Homo sapiens: one gene and its partners. The protein of the gene in region 1 purifies or fractionates together with the protein of each later gene. This does not show direct contact. Each region holds a gene or a part of one and is shown on either strand. Other genes may lie near its edges. The genes, in order: SUGP1, CTPS2 and DHX15.

Region 1 (7,970 bases):
GTTCAAGACCAGCCTAGGCAACATAGTGAGATGTTACCTCTACCAAAAAAAAAAAAAAAAATTAAAAAATTAGCCAGGCAGAGTGGCACATGCCTGCAGTCCCTGTTATCGCACCATTGCACTCTGCACTTTAGCCAGGGCAGCAGAGCAAGACCCTGTCTCTTAAATAAATAGGTCAGGTGTGGTGGCTCACACCTGTAATCCCAACACCTTGGGAGGATGAGGTGGGAGGATGGCTTGAGGTTAGAAGTTCGAGAACAGCCCAGCCAACATAGCGAAACCCCATCTCTACAAAAATACAAAAATTAGCCAGGTGTGGTGGCACATGCTTGTAATCCCAGCTGCTCAGGAGGCTGAGACATGACAATCTCTTGAGCCTGGGTGGAGGAGGTTGCAGTGAGCCAAGATTGCCCCACTGCACTCCAGCCTGGGCGACAGAGTAAAACTCTGTTTCGGATAGATAGATAGAGAGGGAGAGAGACAGAGAGAGAGAGACATGTAGGCCCTGCCTTGGAAAACTCTAAGGTCTAGCAGGAGGACAGACATGAGTCAGTAACAACCCAGATAATCAACTAGCAAGGGAGGACAGGTGCTGTGCAGAGAGAGCAGGAGCCATCTTGTTGGAGGGCCATTTGGACCTGGAGGGTTAATATTCAGGCAGAGATAATACATGGAGTATTGCTTTTATCAGAACAAGATTGTTCCCAGCTTACCGTACTGAAGCCTGCTGTGCGCACTTCGCAGTAGTCTCTTGAAATCTCTGGGGGCCAGTTTGGGGTCCCAGTAGGTGAGAGTGCTGGGGTGAGTTAGGGGCCATGATGGACGAGGTGATGGCCTCATCCTCATCCTCGTCCTCTGGTGCCCTCACTCCATCTCTAGCCAGCTCACCCTCTCTGTCCTCTGTCTTGGTTCTAGAATCACAAATGCACACAACTCTTCCTGCATTTCCAACAAGTTTGCCAACGATGGTAGCTTCTTGCAGCAGTTTCTGAAGTTGCAGAAGGCACAGACCAGCACAGGTGAGTGTAGGCCTCCCCTTTCCTTGTGCTGTCCTTGCATCTCCCCCTGGGGTTGCTGGGCACATGGGAAGTGATGGGTCCCACCTCAGACTCCTGCTCACCGGTAATCATAGATCGCCCTCATTCCACCCATGCGTGCACCAAAGGCATAAATAAATAAATAATACATAAATAATTTTTTTTTTGAGACGGAGTCTCGCTCTGTGGCCCAGGCTGGAGTGCGGTGGCGCGATCTCGGCTCACTGCAAGCTCCGCCTCCCGGGTTCACCCCATTCTCCTGCCTCAGCCTCCTGAGTACCTGGGACTACAGACGCCCGCCACCACGCCCGGCTAATTTTTTAAATATTTTTAGTAGAGATGGGGTTTCATCATGTTATCCAGGATGGTCTCGATCTCCTGACCTTGTGATCCGCCCACCTCAGCCTCCCAAAGTGCTGGGATTACAGGCGTGAGCCACTGTGCCCGGCCTTTTGTATCTTTTTAGTAGGGACTGGGTTTCATTGTGTTACCAGGATGATCTTGATCTCCTGACCTCGTGATCTGCCCGCCTTGGCCATCCAAAGTGCTGGGGTAATAGGCGTGAGCCACTCCGCCCGGCCAGTAATTTTTGTTTTTTTGAGAGGGCCTCACTCTTGCTCAGGCTAGAATGCAGTAGTGCAATCATAGCACACTGCAGCCTCAACCTCCGGGGCTCAAGCAAACCTTCCACCTCAGCCTCCCTGTAGCTGGGGCTACAGGGGCATGCCACCACACCTGGCTAATTTTTTTATTTTTTGTAGAGTTGTGATTTCGCCATGTTGGTCACGCTGGTCTTGGACTCCTAAGCTCAAGCAATCCACCTGTCTCAGCCTTCCAAAGTGTTGACATTACAGGCAGGAGCCACTGTACCCAGCCCAAGTAATAAATATGTAAATTAATACCAAGGGGGCAGGCTGGGCGCAGTGGCTCACGCCTGTAATCCCAGCACTTTGGGAGGCCGAGACAGGCGGATCACCTGAGGTCAGGAGTTCGAGATCAGCCTGACCAACATGGTGAAACCCTGTCTCTACTAAAAATACAAAAATTAGCCGGGCGTGGTGGCAGGCGCCTGTAATCCCAGCTACTCGGGAGGCTGAGGCAGGGGAATCGGTTGAACCCAGGAGGTGGAGGTTGAGGTGAGCCAAGATCATGCCATTGCACTCCAGCCTGGGGGACAAGAGCGAGACTTCGTCTCAAAAAAAAAAAAAATTACCAAGGGGGCAAATGTAGACCCTGCACTCAATGTGCTTACCCTGTAGGAGCAGAGACAGATAAGTCAGATTTCAGTCTGGGGCAGGTGGAGCCATGATGAAGCCTTCCCCACACTTGTGAGACCACTTTGGGAGATGGGAGGCATCCCCAAGCTGGGTCAGCTTGAACCCACCAGCAGGGGTGAGCAGGTCTTCTGCATACAGGGTTTTCAGAGACACCGGGCTGGCCCGAGACACCTGAGCTGCATCAGAGAACAATAGGTTCTGGGGCCTGCTGCGGCTGAGGTGCCGGGTGGGCACGCAGCTGGGGGCACCCAACAATGACCACCAGGGCACTAGTGTTCATCGGGTACCACCCCGTGTGCCAGGGAATGTGGACTCAGTGCCTGCCATGTCCCTTGCTCCGTGCAAGCAGACCACGTCTGTGCTCTCACTGAATCCTCTGGAGGGACACCTCTCTCTACCTCTGTTTCCCTTTGGTAGACGTCTGATAACACACGTCGTATTCTCTTCACTCAGAATTCATAGATGTCGGCTGGGTGCGGTGGCTTATGCCTGTAATCTCAGCACTTTGGGAGGCCGAAGGGGACAGGATCGCTTGAGCTCGGGAATTCAAGACCAGCCTGGGCAACATGGCTAAGTCTCCTCTCTACAAAAAAAATACAAATAATTAGCCAGGCATGGTGATGCATAACTTTAACCCCAACTAATGGGGGGGCTGAGATGGGTGGATCACTTTTGGGCCTGGGAGGCGGAGGTAGCAGTGAGTGGAGATCACGTCACTGTACTCTAGCCTAGGAGACAGAGCAAGACTCCATCTCAAAAAAAGAAAACAAAAAAGAATTCATAGATGTAACATTTTGCCTTTGATACTTCTGATCTTTGTTAATCATGAAAAATACTCACTGGGCACAGTGGCTCACGCCTGTAATTCCAGCACTTTGGGAGGCCGAGGCGGGTGGACCTCCTCAAGTCAGGAGTTCGAGACCAGCCTGGCCAATGTGGTAAAACCCCGTCTCTACTAAAAATACAAAAATTAGCTGGGCATGGTGGCACACCCCTATAATCCCAGCTACTTGGGAGGCTGAGGTGGGAGGATTGCACGAACCTGGGAGGCAACCAGCTCTGCTCACGTGAGCTGAGCTCACGCCACTGCACTCCAGCCTGGGCAACAGAGCGAGACTAAGTCTCAAAAAGAAAAAAAAAAAAGAAAAATACCAGAGGTTGAAGTCCTCCCATCCCCCTTTCTTACAGGAAGTAACTGTCGAGAAATTGTGTGTCTGACAACCCCTGTTGTCCTCTCAGTCAAGCAGTGTGTGCCGTAGTTTCAGATGTTTGACCCTTTATGCAGATGACGACATAGTGTGCGTTTTGTTCCAAGCTTTTTTCTCTTACTCGACGTTATTTTTTTTAGGTCTAGATGGTCCAACTAAATCTCATTGAGTTCTGTAAGCAGCTGGTTACCTCCATTTCCACACTTTCCATTTAGGAAGCTAAGGCTTAAAAAGATGAAGCCCCTGCCAGGCATGGTGGCTCATGTCTGTAATCCCTTTGAGAGGCTGAGCTGGGAGGATCGCTTGAATCTAAGAGTGTGAGACCAGCCTGGACAGCCTAGCAAGAACCCATCTCTGCAAAAAATAAAAATAAAATTAGCCAGACATGGTGTCGTGCACCTGTAGTCCCAGCTACTCTGGAGGCTGAGCTGGGAGGATTGCTTGAGCCCAGGAGTTCAGGAGGTAGAGGCTGCAGTGAACCATGATTGCACCACTGCACTTCAGCCTGGGTGATAGAGCAAGACCCTGTCACTAAAAAAAAAAAGATGAGGTCCCCAAGTGCAGAGCCAGCATCTTTCATGATCCGGGGGCCCTAGTCCTGCTCTCAGGGTGGTGAGCTGGCCAATTTCATGATGCTGCTCCCCACCAGACTCAGGGCTCTTCCTGAAGCTGTCACACACCAGCCTTGCCCCATCCCCTGCCTTGCTGTGGGTGCTTCTGCACTGTAGGTCCTCTGGACACCAAAGTGTGGGCTAGAATGGCTGGTCTCCAGGTCCTCACCTGGCCCCCTTGTCAGTGCCCCAGGGGATTCCCGGCCTTCTCCAGTGGGCAGCAATGCCTGTGCAAGGAATGGGACCCCTGTCTGTAGGTTGGTCGCCTACAGGTGTGCAGTGTGATATGCCAGGTGGGTAAATCGTCACCCGTGGAGCTTCTGCCCATGTCTCTGATTTTGGGGTTTACCGACCAGAGCCCATTGTTGCTGGTGAGACAGCTGGTCTTCGACCTCTGTCAGGTTTCCCAGGGAACAGCTAAGAAAAGTTAACCCAAGGCCAAATTCATCCTAGAATGAGGAAGGCTGGTTTGAGTCCCTTCCCCATCAGGTGTCAGGCTGAGAACACCCAGTAGGCTGGCCCCTGGCCAGTCAGCCTGGCCACAGACCTCCAAGGGAATGGTTGTAAACTGGGATTCGGGGACTCGGGTCTTACCCGGCAGAACTGACGTTCTGTCCCCAGAACTGTCCCCAGTCTGTGGGTGCAGCGCGACCGAGATGCCTCCAGCCACAGCGGCCCACTTCAGAGCCCCAGGCTGCTGCTTTTCTGGCTGGGGGACCACAACGAGTCCTTTTGCTCTTTGCCTCACTGTCCCCATCTGTAAAATCAGGGTGGCCTCCTCTGAGCCCCTGAGTTCTGGAAGTCAAGGACCCAGCTCCCCCGGGGCCCACAGCACCTAGGTTAGGTCGGAAGCCGGGAGAGGTGCCCTGCAGATCCCGAGTGCGCATATCCTTCCTTCTATACCAGACGCCCCGACCAGTGCGCCCAGCGCCCCTCCCAGCACACCCACCCCCAGCGCTGGGAAGAGGTCCCTGCTCATCAGCAGGCGGACAGGCCTGGGGCTGGCCAGCCTGCCGGGCCCTGTGAAGAGCTACTCCCACGCCAAGCAGCTGCCCGTGGCGCACCGCCCGAGTGTCTTCCAGTCCCCTGACGAGGACGAGGAGGAGGACTATGAGCAGTGGCTGGAGATCAAAGGTAAGTTGTGGGAGCTGCTGCTCCCCCACCACCAGTGCCCGTGCTCTAGCAGGTGGGATCTGTGGTGGGCAGGGCAAGTGCTGCCAGGGGCATGGGTGCTTTCGGCTGAGTTGCAGCCACCAGACCTCTGAGCTGAGCCTCAGGCCCTCTGAGGTGAGGAGAGCAAAGGAGGGTGAGGGGCGGGGCTGGGGTGTTGCTGGGCATCAGCGCGTGGGCTTCATCTTGGGAGCAGCGGGATCCATCTTCCACTCACACAGCGGCTCATCCCAGCCAAGGCAGGGGCGCACGCCCTTCTCGCATTTGCTCCAAAAGGGCATCCTCACATCCCTTCTAGGAGGAGCTTCTAAGGCTCTTCCGCTGAGCCCTTGAGGCCCCAAAGCACTGCCCCTCACCATGGGTTACCTGTCCCCTGAGTTTAGGCCAGAGGTATGAGCTGCAGGTTGGAGGGTGCTCTCTTCTATCCCTGGGAAAGGACGGTCACTGGTCACGGGTGAGCTTGTCCAGACCGCCCAGTGTAGGAGGGCAAAGGGGGGTGGCTGTGGTGACAGCATTGCCAGCAAGTCCAGCCCTGTCCACATTCAGGACGAGTCCCTGTGACACCTGAACTGTGTGAAGGGCTAGCCGGTGAGGTCACATCACCCTGACAGCACAGACTGAAGCGACTGTGGAGTTGTGCCATGACAGCCTTGAGATCCCTTGCTTCTGGCTGTGTGTCCGAGCGGATCAGAGGCCAGCTTGGCCCCCGGGCCATTAGAATGGAGCTGGCGTGTGTCCTTTCCTTAAAGGGGTGCCCCAGCAGCTCCAAGGGTACCCTGTTGGGAACTGCTGCATTACAAGGGGTATTGGCCATCTCGGGGCCCTTGAAGCCCATTATGACCCACTGTCTGCATGGCCTCAGAAACGCACCTGTTCCTGTAAACAGCAACCAGGTCAGGATTGTTGCTGGGCCCATGGCAGGAGGGCGACCTAGGGTGAAAGACAGTCACGGAATGCTCTCGGGACCTCACAGGGGCCCTCGTTGGGCTACACACTCCCCACCTCTCCCCCATTCCCAGCAGCCCAAGCAACAAGGGGAATAAGATTAGCCACAGGTCTGGCATGTTGCCCAGTTGCCAGGCACTTGCTGGCAGCGAGAAATTTCTCTTGTGCATCTCCTACAAGGACTGCAGTCTGTGTAGTAGCTGACAAACTCACAGCCTCAGAAACAGGCCAAGGGAAAAATGCAAAAGCAAGTTCCACATGGCTCAGTGGGGAGGCTAATCCGTATATAAAAATATATCTTTATAGCTCTGTTCACTGAAAAGGCCCCGAAATAATGATTAAGCCTGTGGCATTGAGCATCCCTAGCTCCCAGATGCTGGTCTGGAGATGCAGTTTCTCATGGAAACCGACTTCTTGGAGAAGTGGCTGGCTCTGGGTCTGGGCAGGAAGTGTATGAGATGATCTTGGAGCGCCTGTCCTGGCAGATGGCAAGGAGGCCATCAGAGACTCCTGGGGCCATGTCCAGAGCCCTCAGGAGCCAGCTTGAAGAGGTTCCACCGGCCGCAGAGCTTCTATGATGACACTAGTTGCCATGGATCGAAACCCACCCAGTGTGTTTAAATCAGAGCTCATAATGGTATTTTTTAAAAAAGAACGTGTCATCTTTGAAGGATGAAAGGGAACCGATGTATTATGCTGAAAACTGGTAAAGAAAGAAAAGAATTAAGCATTTCCCCCACCAAAACCAGGGGAAGCTGGATATATTTTCTGCTAGCTTCCAGCCTGGAGCTCACCACAGCCTCACACACTTCTCTCCCACCTAGTGTGTCTCACCAAGACAGTGAGACCGACTCCCCCCTCGTCATGGTGTTTTGTGCCTGGACTCGGGACGCCCGACAGCCTCCTGCATCTCACACTCTTCTCCCCCCACCCCCTCTGTCGTTGTGGTCCATAGAGAGAGTGTGCCTATTGACTGTGGGGTGTGTGAGTTGAACCCCAGTACTGACAGCCTCCTTAAAGTTTCACCCCCAGAGGGAGCCGAGACTCGGAAAGTGATAGAGAAATTGGCCCGCTTTGTGGCAGAAGGAGGCCCCGAGTTAGAAAAAGTAGCTATGGAGGACTACAAGGATAACCCAGCATTTGCGTGAGTATCTCCGGGGAAGGGAAGGCTGTGCTGTTGAATGCGTTTGCTGCACAGTCGCACGTGTGGGGCTGGGTGCTTGCTAGTGTGGGCCGGATGCTGTTCCAAGCGTTTTCTGATTCTCACCAGAAGTGACAAGTGGCTCCCATGTGGCACGGAGACTTGCTTTCGGGTCCCTGCTCGCCAGCCTGCCTTTTTTTGCACGATAGAAGCTGCAGGGATATGCCTGTCACAGATACTTATTTTCCCCTCTCTTCTGCAAACTTCCTCCTCTCCAGATTTTTGCACGATAAGAATAGCAGGGAATTCCTCTACTACAGGAAGAAGGTGGCTGAGATAAGAAAGGAAGCACAGAAGTCGCAGGCAGCCTCTCAGAAAGGTAGGTGGACGGAGCGGGTGGGAGATTCTGGGGAGGCCTGTGGACATACCGTGCCCCAATGCGGAATCGGGGTTCCTGGAGGTGCTGGAGTGGCACTGTGTGGCACCGGTGGTTGAGGCCTGTATTCTCCCAGGCATCTGGGGTCACTCTGGGAATGGGTCTGACACCACCTTCCCCCTCAGTGCTCCAAGGACCTGGTGAA
Region 2 (7,970 bases), on another chromosome or scaffold:
GCTTGTATATAAAAAGGTTTTTTTGGGGGTTGGTTTTTTGTTGTTTTTGTTTGTTTGTTTGTTTGTTTGTTTTGAGACAGAGTCTCGCTCTGTCGCCCAGGCTGGAGTGCAATGGCTCGATCTTGGCTCACTGCAACCTCCGCCTGCCAGGTTCAAGTGATTCTCCTGTCTCAGCCTCCTGAGTAGATGGGACTACAGACACGTGCCACCACGCCCAGCTAATGTTTTGTATTTTTAGTAGAGACAGGGTTTCACTGTGTTAGCCAGGATGGTCTCGATCTTCTGACCTCGTGATCCACCTGCCTCGGCCTCCCAAAGTGCTGGGATTACAGGCATGAGCCACCGCACTGGGCCTTATAAAAAGTTTTTTAAAAATAGCATGTAAGGGCTAATGCCATTTTAAAAATAAATCAAATATACTCATACATCAAAATGTCACCATTAATAATAGTTACTCCAGGCAGTGGGAAATGTTAAGAGAAACACACTACCTTTATGTTAAAAATAAAACAGAATCTGTAGTGCAAAAGATACAATGTTTCCAAAAGGGATGATTAATTTGGAATGTCATCAGAGGTATGAACAATGTATCAATGACCATGAGAAAATTCACATATTCATAGCATACGATCTAGTCACTCTAAATCTGGAACTACATCCTAAAGAAATTACCCAAAATGGAAGAAAGAATGCAGTTGAGCCTAGTGCTATAAGGGGGAAGTGGTTCACTTTCGTACCGTGTTCATAAGGTGAAAAAGTGCCAGCATCGATGTTAATATAGGGGTCGATTTTTATGGCAGTAACTCGGAGTCCACATGATTTTAGAATCGTTCCAATGCTGCTGGCAATGATCCCTTTACCAATGCCTGAGATGACCCCACCCGTGACCAGGATGTACTTCATTGGCAGAATAGTGGCTGGGTGCCAACACCCAGATATAATCTGAAAGGCAATAAAATTATGGATAAGGAAAGAGAAATATTTAAAACTAGTAAAGCAGACAGTGTATTCAACCAGAATTAATTTTTTTTTTTTTTTTTTTTAGACATAGTCTTACTGTCACCCAGGCTGGAATGCAGTGAGTGGTGCAATCATGGCTCACTGTAACCTCTGCTCGCTGGGTTCAAGCGATCCTCCCACCTCAGCATCCTAGTAACTGGGACTATAGGTGAGCACCACCACGCCCTGCTAATTTTTGTGGGTTTTTTGTAGAGACGGAGTTTCACCATGTTGCCCACGCTGGTCTCCAACTCCTGAGCTCAAGCAATCCACCTGCCTCAGCCTCCCAAAGTGCTGGGATAACAGGCATGAGCCACCGCACCTAGCTCAGAATTTTTTTTTTTTTTTAAGAGACAGTGTCTCCCTATGTCACCCAGGCTGGAGTGCAGTGGCATGTTCATAGCTCACTGCAACCTTGAACTTCTGGGCTCAAGCAATCCTCTTGCCTCAGGCTCCAGAGTGGCTGGGACTACAGGCACGTGCCACGTCTCCCAGCTAATTCTTAAAACATTTTTGTAAAGACAGGTTCTTACTATGATGCCCTGGCTGGTCTCAAACTCCTGGGCTCAAGCAATCCTCTTGCCTTGGCCTCCCAAGATGCTGATTACAAAAGTGAGCCACCATGCTTCGTCTCACCAAAATTTCAAAAGCACACAGCAGTTTTCTGTCCAAACTAAATACTTGAATTTTTTGAAACAAAGTCTTATCTTCTAGGCTTTTTATTGTTGTCACTATACAGAAAGCTGTAGATACCTTCTGCAAGCAAAGTGCCTAGGTCTGTTGCCCTGGGTTTCCAAAGACCTCAACTCTATCATGCAACAAACTTCATCATGATAAACCAAATTTCTCTAGGATTCACAGGCATGCTAAAATGTTTAAGAGCTCAGACTCCAGTGTCAGACTGATCTGTACAAACTGTACCTGGGCAAGTTCTTTTTTTTTTTTTTTTCTTTTTTTTTAGACAGGGTCTCACTCTGTTGCCCAGGCTGGAGTATAGTGACACAATCTCGGCTCATTGCAACCTCCACCTCCCCGGTCCAAATGATTCTCATGCCTCAGCCTCCCAAGTAGCTGGGATTACGGGCATGCACCACCATGCTGGGCTAAGTTTTGTATTTTTAGTAGAGATGGGATTTCACCATGTTGGCCAGGCTGGTCTCGAACTCCTGGTCTCAAGTGACCACCCACCTCGGCCTCCCCAAGTGCTGGGATCACAGGCGTGAGCTACCACGCCCGGCCTTGGGCAAGTTATTTATCCTTTCTGTGCCTATTCCTTCATCTGTAAAGTGGAAAATATACAACAATCTCTAGGAATATAATTTGGTGTTAAAAAAAAATGGGCTACCAAGCCATGAAAAAACATGGAGGAATCTCAAGTGCATATTACCAAGTGAAAGAAGCCAATCTGAAAAACATACATACTGTATGACTTCAACTATATGACATTTTAGAAAAAGCAAAACTAGAGAGATAGTAAAAAGATCAGTGGTTGTCAGCGGGTAGGAGGGAGAGAGGGATGAATAGTCACAATACAAAGGAATTTTAGGGCAGTGAAACTATTCTGTATAATACTGTAATGATGGATACATGTCATTACACATTTATCCAAACCCACAGAATGGACAACAGGAAGAGCGAACCCTGATGTAAATAAACTACAGACTTTCCGCCGGGCACGGTGGCTCACACCTGTAATCCCAGCACTTTGGGAGGCTGAGGCGGGCAGATCACCTGAGGTCGGGAGGTCAAGACCAGCCTGACCAACATGGAGAAACCCCGTCTCTACTAAAAATACAAAATTAGCCAGGTGTGGTGGTGCATGCCTGTAATCTCAGCTACTCCGAAGGCTGAGGAAGAGAGAATCGCTTGAACCTGGGAGGCAGAGGTTGCAGTGAGCCGAGATCAGGCCATTGCACTCCAGCCTGGGCAATGAGAGCGAAACTCCGTCTCAAAAAAACAAAACAAAAACCTATGATCTTTAGGCAAAAATGATGCGTCAATGTAGGTTCACTGATTATAACAAATGTACCACTCTGCAGGTGCAGGATGTTAATAGTCAGGGAGGCTGGGCATAGCAGTGGGGGAGAGGGTGTATGGGAACTCTGTACTTTCCACTGAGTTTTGCTGTGAGCCTAAAATTACTCTAAAAAAAAAAGTCTTGCCAGGTGCAGTGGCTCACTGCACTCCAGCCTGGGCAACAGAGCGAGACTCTGTCTCAAAAAAATAAAAAATAAAAACTGTTTTTAAATAAGCAATATTAAAATAATTACAACTCATCTAGCTCACAGATGCTGACTGACTGAGTCCTGTTACACCAGTCAAAACTACAGCTTTTATTGGACAAGAGACTGATTTGAGTAACTTTCTCCTGATAAGACCACCAACCATGGACTGGCTCTGGCCAGTTTACAGAGGCTGTGGACTTGCGTGCCTTCATGTCCTGGAAAGATCTTTTGATGCATAGGGCTTAACTGAAATTCATTTAAATGTTAAGTCTCCATCCCCAAAGTGAACAGGGGTCATATGCTATTTTCATGTTTATTCAATACACATGAGTCAGGACCACCTTCATGAATATTCATAGCTCCTCCTGTAACCTGTTGAATATGTATATTTAGCCAACCCATTCAGCATAAAACTGAACCCTCCTTCAGAGTGCCTGCCTCTGGTTTTGGGAGGCCAAGGTAGGAGGGTCACTTGAGGCCAGAAGTTTGAGAACAGCCTGGGCAACATAGCGAGACCCTGTCTCTTTAAAACGTGTGCTTCCCAGCCTGTGGGATGGCCCCTTTGCAGGCTGTTACAGCCTGCAAAGAAATAAAGTAAACCAGGCGTGGTGGCTCACCCCTGTAATCCCAGCACTTTGGGAGGCCGAGGCAGGTGGATCACGAGGTCAGGAGTTAGAGACCAGCCTCACCAACATGGTGAAACCCTGTCTCTACTAAAAATACAAAAATTAGCTGGGTGTGGTGGTGCACACCTGTAATCCTGGCTACTAGGGAGGCTGAGGCAGGAGAATGGCTTGAACCCAGGAGGCGGAAGTTGCAGTGAGCCGAGATTGTGCCACTGCACTCCAGCCTGGGTGACAGAGCAAGACTCTGCCTCAAAAAAAAAAAAAGAAAGAAAGAAAAGAAAAGAAATAAAGTCACCAGGCACAGTGGCTCACGCCTATAATCCCAGCACTTTGGGCAGCCAATGCAGGCAGATCACTTAAGATCAGGAGTTCGAGACCAGCCTGGCCAACATGGTGAAACCCTGTCTCTACTAAAAATAAAAAATTAGCCAGGTGTGGTGGCAGGCACCTGTAATCCCAGCTACTTGCGGGGCTGAAGCACGAGAATCACTTGAACCTGGGAGGCAGAGGTTGCAGTGAGCCCAGATCGTGCCACTGCACTCCGGTCTGGGCAACAGAGTGAGACTCCGACTCGAAAGGTAAGAAAAATTTTGGCCAGGTGCAATGGCTCATGCCTGTAATCCCAGCACTTTGGAAGGCTGAGGCAGGCGGAACACCTGAGGTCAGGAGTTTGAGACCAGCCTGGCCAACATGATGAAACCCTGTCTCTACTAAAAAATACAAAAGTTAGGCTGGGCATAGTGGCTCACACCTGTAATCCCAGCACTTTGGGAGGCCAAGGCGGGTGGATCACCTGAGGTCAGCAGTTTAAGACCAGCCTGGCGAACATGGTGAAATCCCATCTCTACTAAAAATACAAAAATTAGCCGGGCGTGGTTGTGGGCACTTGTAATCCCAGGTACTCAGGAGGCTCAGGCAGGATAATTGCTTGAACCTGGGTGGAGGAGGTTGCAGTGAGCTGAGATCGCACCATTGCACTCCAGTCTGGGTGACAAGAGCGAAACTCTGTCTCAAAAAAAAAACAAACAAACAAACAAACAAAAATTAGCCGAGCATGGTAGTATGCGCCTGTAATCCCAGCTACTCGGGAGGCTGAGGCAGGAGAATCACTTGAACCTGGGAGGCGGAGGTTGCAGTGAGCTGAGATCACGCCACTGCACTCCAGCCTGGGCAACAGAGTGAGACTCTGTCTCAAAAAAAAAAAAAGAAAAGAAAATGTTTTAAAAAAGAAAGTCTCCTTTCTAAATTTATAGATCTTGTGATTTTTAAGTTGACAGTCATAAGGAAAATTTATTTGACTTTTCTGCTGCTTTCTGATTCAAACCCTTTTGTTTTATAGGAAGCCCAATAACTTGATTTTCTTTACTTTGAGTACTATTGTTTTTCCCTTGAGTGTGTACAGGGGCCTTCTGCTCTTGTAATTTCACCATGTATGTGAAAGTAGACCATAAACAGTATTATTTGTGTACTCATGGCAGGCAAATGGGCAACTGAGTAAGACCACAATATAAAATTACAGTTACAGAAAAAGAAAAATAATGCCAGGCATGGTGGCTCACATCTGTAATCCCAACACTTTGGAAGGCTGAGGTGGGAGGATCTCTTGAGGTCAGAAGTTCGACACCAACCTGGTCAACATAGTGAGACTCCCTCTCTACAAAAGAAAAATAAAACATTAGCCAGGTGTGGTGGCACACACCTGTAGTCCCAGCTACTGGGGAGGCTGAGGCAGGAGGATTGCTTGAGCCCAGGAGGTCAAGGCTGCAGTTAGCCAAGTGATTGTGCCACTGCACTCCAGCCTGGGTGACAAAGCAAGATCCTGTCTCAAAAATAAAAAGAGAGACCAGGTGCGGTGGCTCATGCCTGTAATCTCAGCACTTTGGGAGGCCAAGGCGGGCGGATCACCTGAGGTCAGGAGTTCAAGACCATCCTGGTCAGCGTGGCGAAACAATGTCTCTACTAAAAATATAAAAAGTAGCCGGGCGTGGTGGCGTGTGCCTGTGGTCCCAGCTACATGAGCTGCATGGGAGGCTGAGGCAGGAGAATCACTTGAAGCCGGGAGGCGGAGGTTGCAGTGAGCTGAGATCACACCACTGCATTCCAGCCTGGACAATAGGGTGAGACTCGGTACCAAAAAAGAAAAAATAAAAAGAGAGAGAGAGAGAGACAGTAACTAACAAAAGGTAATAACTATAAATTTCACTTTCATTTGTAATTTCACAATTTTTTTACATACTTGGAAATTCAGCACAAATGCATTCGGGTAGGAACAATTTCAGTTACCCACTTCTTATTTGTCCTCCTCAAAGGAATGCCCATTCTGATTTTGTGGTTTCCTCTGCTTACCTTTCAAAACAAACTATCTTAACTAAAGTTATCACACGTCAGAGCTGTGAATTCCATTTGAACTAGCTGACCATGGTCAGGCTGAGTAAACTGAAGCTATTCAAAATATACATGTTCCATCCCAGATGGCCTCCCTAAGTCCCTGGGCCTACCTTTCTCTACACAACACAGTTGATCACATTCAATGCCATCGCACATCTTCACTAGTCACCAGGGCACCCACCTATCTGACCTATGTTTATAGCTTAAAACATTGTCAATCCAAACCCAGAGCCAAGATCACACCATTGCACTCCAGTCTGGACAACAGAGTGAGACTCCGTCTGAAATAAATAAATAAATAAATTATATATATACATATATTACATATATAATGTTTATTTGAACATCTATTACATGCTTGACATATTTCCAAGTCCTAGGAATATGGAGATAAACAAAAAGACAAGGTCTATGTTCCACTGGACTTCACCTTTCCTGCAGGATTAAGGGGCAAATAAACTGTGCTTTAATTATACCTTATTCTGGCACTGTTATACTGTTCAAATGACTCTCTTTGTAAAAGTTACCGAAATGGAAAAATGCCGTAGAGGTATGGTGAAGAAAACTGGCATACATTCGTACAAGTCACATTATGCCTAATAAATTTTTGTATAAGAAAATGCTTCTTTGGGAGGCTGAGGCAGGCGGATCACCTGAGGTCAGGAGTTCGAGACCAGCCTGGCCAACATGGTGAAACCCTGTCTCTACTAAAAATACAAAAATTAGCCAGGCGTGGTGGCAGGCGCCTGTAATCCCAGCTACTTGGGAGGCTGAGGCAGGAGAATCGCTTGAACCCGGGAGGCAGAGGTTGTAGTGAACCCAGATAGCACCATTGCACTCCAGCCTGGGGGACAAGAGCGAGACTTCGTCTCAAAAAAAAAAGTTAAAAAAAAAGAAAATGCTTATGTGGCCGGGCACGGTGGCTCACGCCTGTAATCCCAGCACTTTGGGAGGCCAAGACGGGCGGATTGCCTGAGCTCAGGAGTTCGAGACCAGCCTGGGCAACATGGGGAAACCCCATCTCTACTAAAATACAAAAAATCAGCCAGGTGTGGTGGCGTGCACCTGTAATCCCGGCTACTCAGGAGGCTGAGGCACGAGAATTGCTTGAACCTGGGAGGTGGAGGTTGCAGTGAGCCAAGATTGTGCCAGTGCCCTCCAACCTGGGCAACAAAGTAAAACCGTGTCTCAAAAAAAAAAAAAAAGGAAGAAAGAAAATGCTTATGTTACCTGAAAAAGAGAGCAGACTATAAAATTGAATATATTATTGACTATGTTTTTTTAAACTAAGATCTAAATTTTATTTGTCACCACTAAGATTTCCATCTTATGGCCGGGTGCAATGGCTCACGCCTGTAATCCCAACACTTTGGGAGGCCAAGGCGGGCGGATCACAAGGTCAAGAAATCAAGACCATCCTGGCCAACATGGTTAAACCTTGTCTCTACTAAAAATACAAAAATTAGCCAGGCGTGGTGGCACCCACCTGTAGTCTCAGGTACTCGGGAGGCTGAGGCAGGAGAATCACTTGAACCCAGGAGGTGAAGGTTGCAATGAGCCAAGATCGTGCCATTGCACTCTACCCTGGTGACAGAGTGAGACTCTGTCTCCAAAAAAAAAAAAAAAAAAAAAAAAACAGATTTCTATCTTAATTTGGTCAAAGATACACCATGTTATGTCTTAATATATTTAGGTGATTAGGTTGTATGTGTTGGGGCTCAGAAAACAAAAC
Region 3 (6,550 bases), on another chromosome or scaffold:
TCCACTCAAAAGCAAAAGTGAGTTTGTGCATGCTCATAAAAATTTATCTTAAATGTTGGTACATCCAGTTTCTTTGAGTGAATTAATATACTAAGAAATTTTAAGTATTTAATGAGTAACAAATTAATGTACTAAATGGCTAAGGTAGTCTAGTTATACAGGAATCGTTTTTAGAATTATTTTATTAATAGAGCCTTTGTTATACAAAATGGAAACTTTGGCTACTTTCAGATGTGATTAGGCACCTGTTTCTTCAGGAATGTGAATATTGATCAGTGCATTAAAGTTTCTCTGAATCTAGGGCTTAATTGGAAATACATTGTCATAACAGAGTACTAAAAGGAAGCAATTGAGCGGATCCAAAAGTACATACAGTTGGCTTTAGTCTTTATCTAAAAACTAAGCACCTCCAAATTCAAATATTCAAATACGTGGATTTCATTTACAGTCCTCTACAGAGTGATCATTGGTAATTATGACCAAGACCCTTGCGTACTGCAAAAGCCAAAAACGTCTGTTGAGTAGCAATAAAGATGAAACATAATTTAAAAGGTTTTATTTAGTTTAAGTATGCTGTGTTAACGGCTATAAGAACAGAAGTAAAACTTGTCAAGTAAATACTGTGAACAGTTATTTTAAGGTGTTTATAAAATAAGAGAAACTTTGAGAAAAATGCAAGAAAATTTTGTGGTGATAAAATTGAAAACAAATCACCTGATTTGGGATAAGTCTCTTCTATCTCTTTTCTGTTTGTTCATTCTCTCTTTGGCTGTGTCTTTTAAGCACGATGTGGCTTACCCTTAAGGCCAGATGGGCTCAGTAGCTAGAATATGAGCCTGAGGACACTCAGTTTCAGAATCAAAAATCAAAGGAGATTGGTGAGATGTCTGTATTTGAATCTAAGTAACACAGTGTTTATTGTGGCATCTTATTATATAATAGGCTTATTAGAGTTTGGTGAATGATAGGTATGAGCATTCTTTCTTGAAACTCTTAACTATATTCTTAATATTTGATATGTTGTACTGGCTTCTCTTTGACATGTTCTGTTCTTTTTTAGGGGGAGGGGATGGGGTGAGGGAGGCAATGTCTCACTCCCAGGCTGGAGTGCAGTGGTGCAATCACGGCTCACTGCAGCTTTTACCTCCCTGGGCTCTGGTGATCCTCCCACCTCAGACTCCTGAGTTCCTGGGACTACAGGCACGCACCACTATGCCTAGCTAATTTTTGCCTTTTTGTGTGTGTAGAGAGAGGGCCTCGCCACGTTGCCCAGGCTGATCTTGAACTTCTGGCTTCAAATGATCCTCCTACCTCGACCTCCCAAAGTGCTGAGATTACAGACGTGAGCCACCAGGCCTGGGTTGACATGTTCTTAAATTTGCTTTTTATATTTCAGAAAAAAACTGGCCGGGCGCTGTGGCTCACGCCTGTAATCCCAGCACTTTGGGAGGCCGAGGCGGGTGGATCACGAGGTCAAGAGATCGAGACCATCCTGGCTAACATGGTGAAACCCCGTCTCTACTAAAAATACAAAAAATTAGCCGGGCGCGGTGGCGGGTGCCTGTAGTCCCAGCTACTCGGGAGGCTGAGGCAGGAGAACGGCGTAAACCTGGGAGGCAGAGCTTGCAGTGAGCCGAGATAGCGCCACTGCACTCCAGCCTGGGCGACAGAGCGAGACTCCGTCTCAAAAAAAAAAAAAAAATTGATGAAACTATATTCAAGCATTATACTTCTTAATTATGTAGATTAAAATTTGTTACAAACAGCTAGGCACCACAGAGTGTGCTTGTAGTCCTAGCTACTAGAGAAGTTGAGTGGAGAGCAAGGAGCGTTGAAGCCAGCCCAGGCAACATAGGAAAACCCTATCTCTTTTTAAAAACAAACAAAAAATTTATTAGAAACAGCATGCATTATAGTACCTGACACCTAATAGGTGTTTAGTAAATATTTCGAATGAAATTGAGTTTCTTTTCTATTATTCATGCTCATTCTTTAAGCACAGAATATTAGAATTGGAAAGGGAGAACTGTCCATTTTGATGAGTATCACCAGTCAAGGTGTTACCAAAAAAAGAAATGAGAGGGAAGCACGTGCAAGCTCTTTTTTTTTTCCCATTTTTATTTTCCTGTCTTTGTAGGTTACCTTTTTCTTTTCCTCTTTGCCCTCTTTAGTTTTCTACCTTATTTTTTATTCTATTTCTTTATTTTCTTTTTTGAAATGGAGCCTCTCGGTCTGTCGCCCAGGCTGGAGTGCAGTGACTTGATCTCAGCTCACTGCAACCTCCGCCTCCTGGGTTCAGGCAATTCTCCTGCCTCAGCCTCCTGAGTAGCTGGGATACAGACACCCGCCACCACGCTTGTCTAATTTTTGTACTTTTAGTAGAGATGAGGTTTCACCGTGTTGGCCAGGCTGGTCTCGAACTCCTGACCTCAGGTGATCTGCCTGTCTCAGCCTCCCAAAGTGCTGGGATTACTGCACCTGGCTTTAGTTTTCTACCTTAGACATGAATGTTCTGGTAATTGTCTGCTCATAGTTGGCGCCCAGTGCTGAAGAGCCTGCTCTAGATGGTCTCAGGCAGGAAAGATCAGATAGTAAATGTTGGGCTCTGTGGACCCATGAAGTCCTTGTCAAAACTACCTAACACTGCCTGCTCTTGGAGCATAATAGGTATAGACAAATGGGCATGCCTGTGTTCTAATAAAACTTTCCTTATGGATACTGAAGTTTGAATTTTACATGCTACTCATGCTTCACGGAATGTTTTTTGTATGATATTTTTTCTTTCTAATTAAAGATAAATAAACCATTTTGGATTCACAGACCTTACAAATAGAGGCTATGAGTTGGATTTGGCCCACAGGCAGCAGTTTGCTTATCTCTGCTTTTATCAGACAGTGATAAATAAGTATAGCCATAGAATGAAAAGTAAAAGGGAGGCCTGCCTCTTCCTAATTATGTAGGTAGCTTTACAACTAGCAAGTCAGAAGCATTGTATTAATAATATACTGGGTTTTGGTTTCAGGTGGCACATTTAGAACGAACAGGGCATTACTTAACTGTGAAAGATAACCAGGTGGTTCAGTTGCATCCCTCTACTGTTCTTGACCACAAACCTGAATGGGTGCTTTATAATGAGTTTGTTCTAACAACAAAGAATTACATCCGGACATGTACAGATATCAAGCCAGAATGGTAAGTACACCTTTTGTTCTAACAGTTTTTTGTTAGTACTTTGCTCAAAATGGAACCTGACTGTTGCTAGAGTCATGGCCTTGCATTCACTCATTGAGAATTTATATTTCAGTGTGTAGGTATGAGGGAATTGACTGGATGGTGTGATTAATCTTTCACACCCTTCCTTTGTTAAGTGGACAGTGGGATTGTTGATATTTATGGGCAGGATTTGAAGCCAAATGTGAAGTTACATTTGAATAGCATGAAAAGTTTCTTCAGGGGCTGGGCATGGTGGCTCACACCTGTAATCCCAGGACTCTGGGAGGCCAGGATGGGAGGATCACTTGAAGCCAGGGGTTCAAGACCAGCCTGTGCAATATAGCCAGAATCCATCTCTACTAAAAGATATATAGGTGTGTACAAAAATTAGCTGGGCATGGTGGTGCTGCACGTCTATAGTCCCAGCTACTGGGGAAGCTGGGCAGGAGGATTGCTTGAGCCCAGGAGTTTGAGGTTGCAGTGAGCTATGATCATGCCACTGTACTCCAGCCTGGGTGACAGTGAGACCCTGTCTCTCAGACATACTTTTAAAAAAGGGTTTTTTTTTAATTTTTTTAATTTTTAGAGTTTCTTTGGAGCCATTCTCTTGCTGTTGTGATTCTCAAGTCAGTACTGTTTCTTGCTTGCAGAAATCTGTTTTTTTTTGTTTTGTTTTGTTTTTTAACATTTTTTTTGTCCCATTACAATTAGCCCTCAACTATTTATTATTTATATATTGGTTTTTAGGAACTGTGCAGGCATAAAAATGATAGCTCTTTGTGTTTTAACATACTAGCTTCTACAAAATGTAGAGTAAGAACGGATTGTTTTATTTTAAGCAAAATAACCCTCACCTTCATGGTTTTTTGTTTTATTTATGCCAGAATCTATTCTATAACCTATGACAGGAAATGTCAGCCAAGAGTAGTGGGACTGAAGGCACATATTCTAGGTGCTGTCACCGCTTTATATTGTGCAGCTGCTTTCTTATACGGATTTGGGACTTTTGACACTTAAATTGTGTAGGACATTACCATTTTATCTTAAACGCTTTGTTGAGAAAAAAATTATATAGCTAAACTTTATAAAAGATTTCAGTCAAGTGTATTTTGGGGGTATAGAGTTACAGTTATTAAAACATTGAAAATGAAAAGATCCAATCATTTGAATACCACGATGTTTCCTACACAGAACCTGTTATATATTACTATATCCTTGGAGTGGCAAATTAATAGTGTGCCAGAGTAAAGAAATCAGTGACTTTATCTGTTATCTTTACATTAATGTATCTTGAGGGGTTTGTTATTAAGTTTATGGTAAGTCCAACATCAGAAAATTCACATCTTACTAAATAAAATACTTAACACATTTCTAAAAGTGCTATTTGTAAGGATTAGTTATTTGTATTTTTCTGAGACTTGAATTCATAGATTTGCCTTGGTTCATCAGTATATTAATGAATAATGCCTATCCTATTAACAACTCCAGTACTTCAATTAAATGTTAATTTGGAAATTTTTCTGCCCACTTCTAAACAGGTTGGTGAAAATTGCCCCTCAATATTATGACATGAGCAATTTCCCACAGTGTGAAGCAAAGAGACAGTTGGACCGCATCATTGCCAAACTTCAATCCAAGGAATATTCACAGTACTGAATTCAGTGCTTAGAACTGAAGTTATTGAGAGGACAGCTTTAAAAGATGAATGAACTCAAAAGTTCGAGTTGTGCTCTTCACGTTGGTTCGATAATGGCCTTTATTTGAAAGCTTTTTAATTTTTCTTTACAGTAAATATTCCATTCTGATTTCATAAATTAAACATTTATGCCTCCCTTTTGTGTTGACACTGTAGCTCATACTGGAAAAGTCGATCAATGTTTTGCAGTTTATTGAAAGTAGTTCTATATATAACAATGTTATAAGCATTTCTTTAGAAATGGTTGAAAATGCTTCTAAAATGTGATTATCGACCATGGTATGCATGATCGTTGTAATTGTTGACATTCCTTTTAGAAGTTGTGAAATGTTACAACTTGTGCTTATGTAGACACAATCTTCTGTCTCAGTACAGAGGCACTGACTTCAATAAAGTCTATTTATACTAATTTTGGCCAAAGCCCTTTGGTATCTTTGTTCTAGTCTCTAAGTATAGTTGTTTTTCAAGTGTGGAGCTTTTTTATTATTATAATTATACTGTTACTACATATTTAGTATCTTTCTACCAGGAGTACTCCTTAGGAAAAGTAGCTGTTAAAGCAGTATTTTTAAGAGCATGGCTTAGCGCTTTGTTAGGTTAATCAGGATGTGATCGATCTAAAAGGGGTAAAATGTGTGTAGTGATCATTTGAAACTGGACCCCAAAAGAGAGAATAATGAAAGGAGAGCTCTCTACTTGTCTTTCTTAGAGTTCCTTTCATAAGGCTCATAATTTATTAACTACATTTTTGTCAGATGTTTTTATTATACTTCTAGCTTCTCAAACACGTTTATTAGTATTAGGTAAGAGGAAAGCATATTTTAGATCTCAGTTTAACAAAATTCTTAGTGATGGAAGTTTTATGCAGTATACAAAATAATTTGTATAGTGTGTTAAAATGTACATTTGACCTTCCATTTTCTATGACAGGCAGTAGACAAGTTGAAAACTTGTCTACATTCATTTTGGAATGAAAATTGAGGTGTTTTATGTGGCCCATAAAATGTTTTTTAATCAGTTATTTTCATATGAAGACTAAATACTGTACTCATTAGTCTGGACTTCCCTCTTCTTCCCCTCCTACCTTTATAAGTTTTTAAGTGTTAAAGGAAATATATAGGTGTGTGCCTGGCATTTAAATATACTTGGTAACTAGCATGTGACTTAGGGAGTTGGGCAAGTTAACTCTTTGAAGCTAACTAGTATGCTTTTTAGTGTAGGTAGGTGTTACTAAATGATGCCTAGTGGCTTGAAAAAGTTAATGTGCCTTCTATAAGTGCCTCATTTTGTTCCCATGGAATAATTTACATGGTGGAATAATACTTCAGGTTACATTTAAATATTGGTTAGATATTCATGCAACATTAAGCATTGGCAACATTGCCAGAATGTCTTAAAGTTATGTTGAAAAAGTCTAAGTACTTGGTCAGACTGTTCTCACTGAAATGGCAGCTCTCACCAGAGGAATATTTTGCTTGTTAATTTAAGCTGCAAGTGTAGTTTGTAAGTTGTTGTGTATCTTTATAATCTGACCATCCAATTTTAAGTAGGTCTCAGAGTGGTGTAACGTATTATTTAATCTTGGGCTGTGTAAAATGTGAAGTTAGACCATTAGGTTTTCTTACAGAGAAACTGTTACGT

Evidence for each region.
Region 2: the proteins of SUGP1 (region 1) and CTPS2 purify together in Homo sapiens (affinity purification with mass spectrometry; 2 studies listed by BioGRID and IntAct, with this or other methods). This does not show direct contact.
Region 3: the proteins of SUGP1 (region 1) and DHX15 purify together in Homo sapiens (affinity purification with a luminescence readout; 2 studies listed by BioGRID and IntAct, with this or other methods). This does not show direct contact.

The regions. Positions count from the first base shown.
Region 1 is NC_000019.10:19,303,146-19,311,115, reverse strand, and holds part of SUGP1 (SURP and G-patch domain-containing protein 1), read left to right. Parts: intron 1-915; coding exon 916-1,019; intron 1,020-5,039; coding exon 5,040-5,267; intron 5,268-7,268; coding exon 7,269-7,392; intron 7,393-7,667; coding exon 7,668-7,768; intron 7,769-7,970.
Region 2 is NC_000023.11:16,702,000-16,709,969, forward strand, and holds part of CTPS2 (CTP synthase 2), read right to left. Parts: intron 7,842-7,970; exon of another isoform or gene 7,812-7,841; coding exon of another isoform or gene 7,725-7,811; intron 6,520-7,724; exon of another isoform or gene 6,420-6,519; intron 5,499-6,419; exon of another isoform or gene 5,410-5,498; intron 943-5,409; coding exon of another isoform or gene 904-942; coding exon 738-903; intron 1-737. UniProt on the Homo sapiens protein: Catalyzes the ATP-dependent amination of UTP to CTP with either L-glutamine or ammonia as the source of nitrogen. Constitutes the rate-limiting enzyme in the synthesis of cytosine nucleotides.
Region 3 is NC_000004.12:24,526,243-24,532,792, reverse strand, and holds the end of DHX15 (ATP-dependent RNA helicase DHX15), read left to right. Parts: intron 1-3,022; coding exon 3,023-3,192; intron 3,193-4,751; coding exon 4,752-4,869; 3' UTR 4,870-5,318; downstream 5,319-6,550.